2 separate regions of the Homo sapiens genome follow, and region 2 is linked to region 1. Evidence: fine-mapped expression QTL. A gene starts in region 1. The other region holds a variant in brackets. All regions are shown on one strand. Distances are between the middles of the regions.

The links. PIP is the estimated chance that this variant, and not a neighbour inherited with it, causes the effect.
Region 2: its variant is fine-mapped to the expression of GTPBP8 in nasal epithelium (TOPMed, PIP above 0.99).

The regions. Positions count from the first base shown.
Region 1 is chr3:112,989,784-112,992,707 of GRCh38, forward strand. It overlaps GTPBP8 (GTP binding protein 8), which reads left to right and starts at 1,201. Exons shown (of 6, transcript NM_014170.4): 1 at 1,201-1,552. The coding sequence starts at 1,217. RefSeq lists enhancers at 743-1,370, 1,249-1,458.
Region 2 is chr3:112,778,747-112,781,670 of GRCh38, forward strand. No RefSeq gene overlaps it. Among named protein-coding and RNA genes, the nearest start is that of CD200R1L-AS1, 22 kb to the right of the region's middle. The variant C/T (reference allele first, on the strand shown) is at 1,364.

The DNA.
Region 1 (2,924 bases):
TGAGATCTACCCTCTGCCCCTAAAACATTGCTCTTAACTCCACCGCCTGTCCCAAAACCTATAAGAACTAATGATAATCCCACCACCTTTGCTGACTCTCTTTTGGGACTCAGCCCACCTGCACCCAGGTGAAATAAACAGCCTTGTTGCTCACACAAAGACTGTTTGGTGATCTCTTCACATGGATGAGTGAAACACACACTAATGAGAATCCCAAATTTCTGATGTATACAACAGAGTATTATACACACTTTTATACATGGAGGAGAGAGAATAGCGAACAGAAAGGCACCCCAAACCCTAATGCAAAGAGCAATAAAAAATTAGCCAGCCAGCAGCACATCAGGCTGCCGTATTGGCTGCCCTCAAAGTCGCAGGTTCTGTTCATTAATTTTTGTATCATATTTATTCAAGAATTGTACTGTTTAATTACTGAACAACCTGGGGAATAGCTCAAGAAACCATGAGTTACCCTTTCTGGGCTGCTGATGTTTTAGAAAACCTAGTTTTTTTAACATATGAATATTTTTCAGTTATTCATTTCATCATTATGATACCTGTATCTCCCATTTCAGTACTGATCGACTTTAGGGAGAAACTTTTGAAATAAGATGATATTACGAAACGTCCACGAAACAATTCTGTAACATCTGTGCAAAACTGTTTTTATAAGAAATCTCTAAAATTTAATGACATTTCCTGCACCTATAGTGAAGGCGGAAATACAAACAGTCCCTTCCACGAAAACGAGGTGCTATTACAATCACATTTCTCATCAGCCCTTTTCTTTTTTGCAAAAGTGTTTATCCTAGTGCTGCGGACTTACGACAAACGTCAACAGTTAATAAGATAACCAAAAACTGTGAAAATCAAACGTTCCTGGAATGCATCGGAGCTTCACACTTTAGTCCTTCGCTTGAGACTCAAAGGCCACATGGCCAGATAGGTCTTTCACCTCTGCAAACCGTTAAACATCCTTCCAGTAAGACATAATCGTTAAGCCCACGGTGTTAAAGAAACCCAGTGAGCTGTTCCCCGCAGGTCACCGCCTGCCTCCACCCTCCTCCCGCGCACTGAAGGCAAAACACTTAGACCGGAACGAGCGAGGCCAGAGGAGACAACAACTCCCAGCAGGCGTCGCGGCAGCGGGAAGTCACGCACGCGCAACCCAGGCCACAGGAGTAAAATCTCTCTGCCCGTCTTCTGGGAAGGGAGAATGGCGGCGCCCGGGCTGCGGCTGGGAGCGGGAAGACTCTTTGAAATGCCTGCGGTGCTAGAGCGACTGAGCCGCTATAATAGCACGTCCCAAGCTTTTGCTGAGGTGCTGCGGCTGCCGAAGCAGCAGCTGAGGAAGCTGCTGTACCCGCTGCAGGAAGTAGAGCGGTTCCTCGCCCCCTACGGGAGGCAAGACCTTCACCTGCGTATCTTTGACCCAAGCCCGGAGGACATAGCCAGGGCGGACAACATCTTCACGGCCACTGAACGGAACCGCATCGACTACGTCAGCTCCGCCGTCCGTATCGACCACGCCCCGGACCTTCCGCGGCCAGAGGTGAGAGGCGATTCTCACGGTTCACCTGCGCGCCGGCGTCACAGCGCTAACCGCTTCCCTGGCCGTCCGGCTCGCGGGTGATTTTGCGGTTGTATTTTCTAGCTTTATGTTGGCGCATATATTATTTTAACTCAATAGGCATATGTCGATGCTCCCTGTACGTGGGGATACCCGAGAAACCCATTGTTAAGTACAAAATGCAGTCAATACCCATAAACCCATGGTAAAGTCAAAAATCGTTAAGTCGACCCACTGTAAGCAGAGACTGCCTGTATACAGCTTAAATTATTTTGGAATGAATATAGAAGACTTCAAAATGCTTTAAAAGCTTTTCAAACCCAAATTAAGCATTCAAAAAATTAACTCTCCTTTTTTCTTCTATTTAACTTAAGTAGGGAAAACATGCCAGACAAATTAGACAGAATTTAGACAGTGAAGAATAGGAAACGAATAATAGTTTCACAAATGAGATGGTCCTTATCAATAAGTAACTTTCGCCTAATCTAAATTTCCTATCGTGCAAAAATAATAATCTCTAGATGGCAATAATGTGGAAAAATTTTTATAACAACGTTTATTAGTGAAATTTCATGAGTGAGCATTCTTGCATGTCCTACAATTTATTGATATTCTGTTCTAAGTCTGCTAAAAGGCATCTCAACTCTCCATATGTATTTACACTAAGTGCACCATTGCCCAGAGATATTTCGTCTAAATATATGTGGAACTATAGTCAGGATTCAAAGAGTACCTCAATTATTTAATGATTTTGAGACAGCCATTGCTTTTTTATTTAAGCTTCTAAATTACTGGACTTTTTTGTAATTCGTTTTTAAAATTCAGTTTTATCTACATATTAGCATTAGATTTGCTCTGGCAGAGCATTTAAAATTTTTGCAGGACTCAGATCAATTAATTTTGAAGAACTGACCAGAATTTTCCAGGATAGGATCCCTGGCCCCTGCCCACTAAATGTCCCCCAATTGTCTTGATAACCAAAAATGCCCTTAAAATCTCCAAAATGTCCCTCAAGGGGCAGTACGGCCGTCATTTAGAACAACTGATTGGCATTGTACCCCCTCCCCCAATACCATGTTCAAAAGCAGAGCCATGTGTATTAATGGTTATTATCGAGAATATTCTGTTGTTTTCCACACTACAGAGGAGACAAGCTTAATTGGAACAAGAGAGGTCAAGGGAAAAGAGTAAGTTTTTAAATTGCAGTGGTGTTACAGTATACCATGGGAGTGCTTGAGAAAATGTGCTTCCAAACATGTAGTTGTACTTTTCATCTAGTTCTGTTGAACTACATCTAGTTTTTACTCTAAAAAGCTTTGTAAATATGAAATGCTTAATAAAAGTTGCATATATT
Region 2 (2,924 bases), 210 kb before region 1:
TAGCAGTAATATGGTAATGACTCACCTATATTTCACAATAAATTACTGTAAAAAGCAACACCCACAAGCTTGCCAATGAATTCCTCAGTTATCCTCTCTATGACCTATGAAAATAGCAATGTTTTCTTTAATCATCAGCATAGAGATTACTGAAGACTTTGTCTACAATTTTAAAAAACATAATTCAGCACTAAAATAATATAACAGAATTGGATTATCTTAGATTTTAATCTCTAAACACAAATTCCAGATTATGTCAAAACATATAAGTATTCCTGAGTTACTATTAGGGTCATAGAAGAAAACATATTTCTAATAGGTTCTAGGAAAGTGATGAAAATGAGGTAGTATTCCATAAATAGAGGAAAATGTAAATTGGGGTAACAGTAAGGCTTTGGATTTAAGTGACAATTGCTCCTGACCTTCTCAAAGAATGATTACCCACAAGCTCAGGCTACCCTGCTTAAAATTCTGCAAGTCAAGCTGGTTTATTCAGGATACAGCAGGTAGGATGTATCTGAGGAATCTCACTCTGAACTTATTGTGGCTACTGGTTAGGATAGGAATAGGGTGAAAGATGAGGCCTGGCTCATTTGGAGTTAATGGTGAAATATAAGAGGAAAGGGATGGAGTTAATGGTGAAATATAAGAGGAAAAGGATGGAAATATATTAAAAGCTGGTGAAATATAAGAGGAAAGGGATGGATATTCAAGCAAAAGGTCAGCAACACTTTGGTCTTTGCAACCAAGCAATTATCTTTATATAGCACCCCCTTCTTGGGAAAAAGAAACTGTGTTCAAAAGATCAAAATTTTAAATCAGAAGAATTACATGGTTAAGCATGAAATTAGTGTGAAGTCAATGATTAGAAATTCTTCAAGTATATTTTTATTTTACAGTAGCATATCTATTTTAAAAGCTATTTAATTCAGAAATGTTTAGATAAGGGATATGTTGATGGAAACTAATCAAACTTTAAAATTGCTGGTGCAAGCAGATTTATTTTCTTAAATCTTGAATGATTTTGCTGTTAACATGTTCTTTTCAGCAGTCCGGAACAAAATAAGTATATAAATTCTAACTTCAAATAACATAATTATTACTCTTTGAAAGCTAGAAAAACTGAATCAAGAAAACTTTCATGGCTTTTCCCTAGAGCCAGGAAAAGTGGAAGGTTCCCTAACTATGAGAAAGGCCAGCCTGACCTTTTCTGTGAGAAATAGAACCATGCAGATAGTAGTCAGATGAGGCTTCAGCTTCCAAGAGCCCTACCCTGAGTGTCCTATTTTAAATTGAGAACACTCCACCCTGAAACTTCCCATCCCAACCACTTTACTCTGTTTTTTTCCATAGCACTTACTTC[C/T]TTCTAATATGCTATTTACTTTTTATTGTCTGTCTCGGTTCACCAGAATGTAAGCTCTACAGAGGTTAAGGATTTTTTTTGCCAGTTTTGTTCGCTGATGTATCTCACCTTCCTAGAACAATGCCTGGTACATAGTAGATACTGAATTTGTCCTTATGTAATCAAAACTGGGAGACAATAGACTAAAGAAGGAAGTTCAGAGTATTAAGGACAAGTGCTAGTGATTCAAACTAAGTTATGAACAAATAGTGAAATATCTAACAGGGAGGGGCCAACAGTTAAAATTCAGTGAGGACCAGGATACCAAGCTGCTCAGAAGCTTTAAAGTCCAAAGTAAGTCAGCAAAGATTGAAAGTCCAGAAGACATTTAATTCTTTGGCAGACACTTTAGCTACCTACTCACTCTCCACTTCCCACTTTTACTCACCATCTGAAACCTTTATTTTGGTTATAATAACATTGTGCACCACTTCAGATGGGGATAAATGGACTAAGCCAATTATGACCATTCTTTTCCCCGTTTCTCAGCTGCTCAGTCCAGGCCAGTGAGAACTAAATAGAAGTCAACTGGGCACATTCTGGAAAATAGAAATTAGTTTTGCTGGTAAATGGAGACATAAATGATTGGCATAGCCTTTCCCTCTTCTTCCTACCTTGCGCATGGACATTAGAGCTGGAGCTGTCCCAGCCACCTCAGGTGCTCAGGGAAAGACCAAGAGAATTCTCTTTATTTAATTCACTGTACAGGTTATTTACCTGCTTGTTCCAAAATTTATTTTGGACCCTTACCTATAAATAAAATTTCCAAACTCCCTTGCCAACTGCCTCCAGCTAGATATGGTCATTGGCAGCACTAGGAGGAAATTGAGGAATAAGAGGAATGGAGAAGCCAGGGGATTTATCTTCCCTTCCTCTGCTTCCAGCAGTATCTCCAGTGTTGACATGGTCTTCTCCATAATCCCAGCCAATGCCAATGGGCCCTTTTCCATGGTCCCAGCTCCCACCAAGCAGCCATCTTACACATGTTACACATCCAGCTCCAGGTGACTCTGACTTCCAAGCTCTGGTACACACTATCTCCTTTCTTTGTCCCTTCAGTCCTGTGGGTGGTAGTGGCTTCCTGCTGTTACTAATCTTTAAGCTGCTAATCTTTAAGAAGCCCTATTTGGCTTCTCAGCTCTTCCAGTCTTTTTGTACCTCGTGCCCTGTATTAAATTATTTCTATTGGACACCTGGCACGAACTGAGCTTTCCTCTCTGGATCCTGATTTATACTACATCGTATTTGGCTTTTTCATTGCTTGACACAAACCACTCTTCAAATGGACTCAAACCTTAAGAAATAATTACAAATTCCTTATCTTGTGGACTGGTAGATTTTGTAAAGTCTATCCCCTTTTACAGGGTACTCATGGCCTCAGTGGGTAAGGAGAGAGTAAAGACAGCAAGTTGGTGTGGTTATATACGTGTGGATACATATACACACACATACATTTACATATATATACATATATAATCACATGGTTATATATGTCTTTACTATCTCCTTACCCACTGTGGTC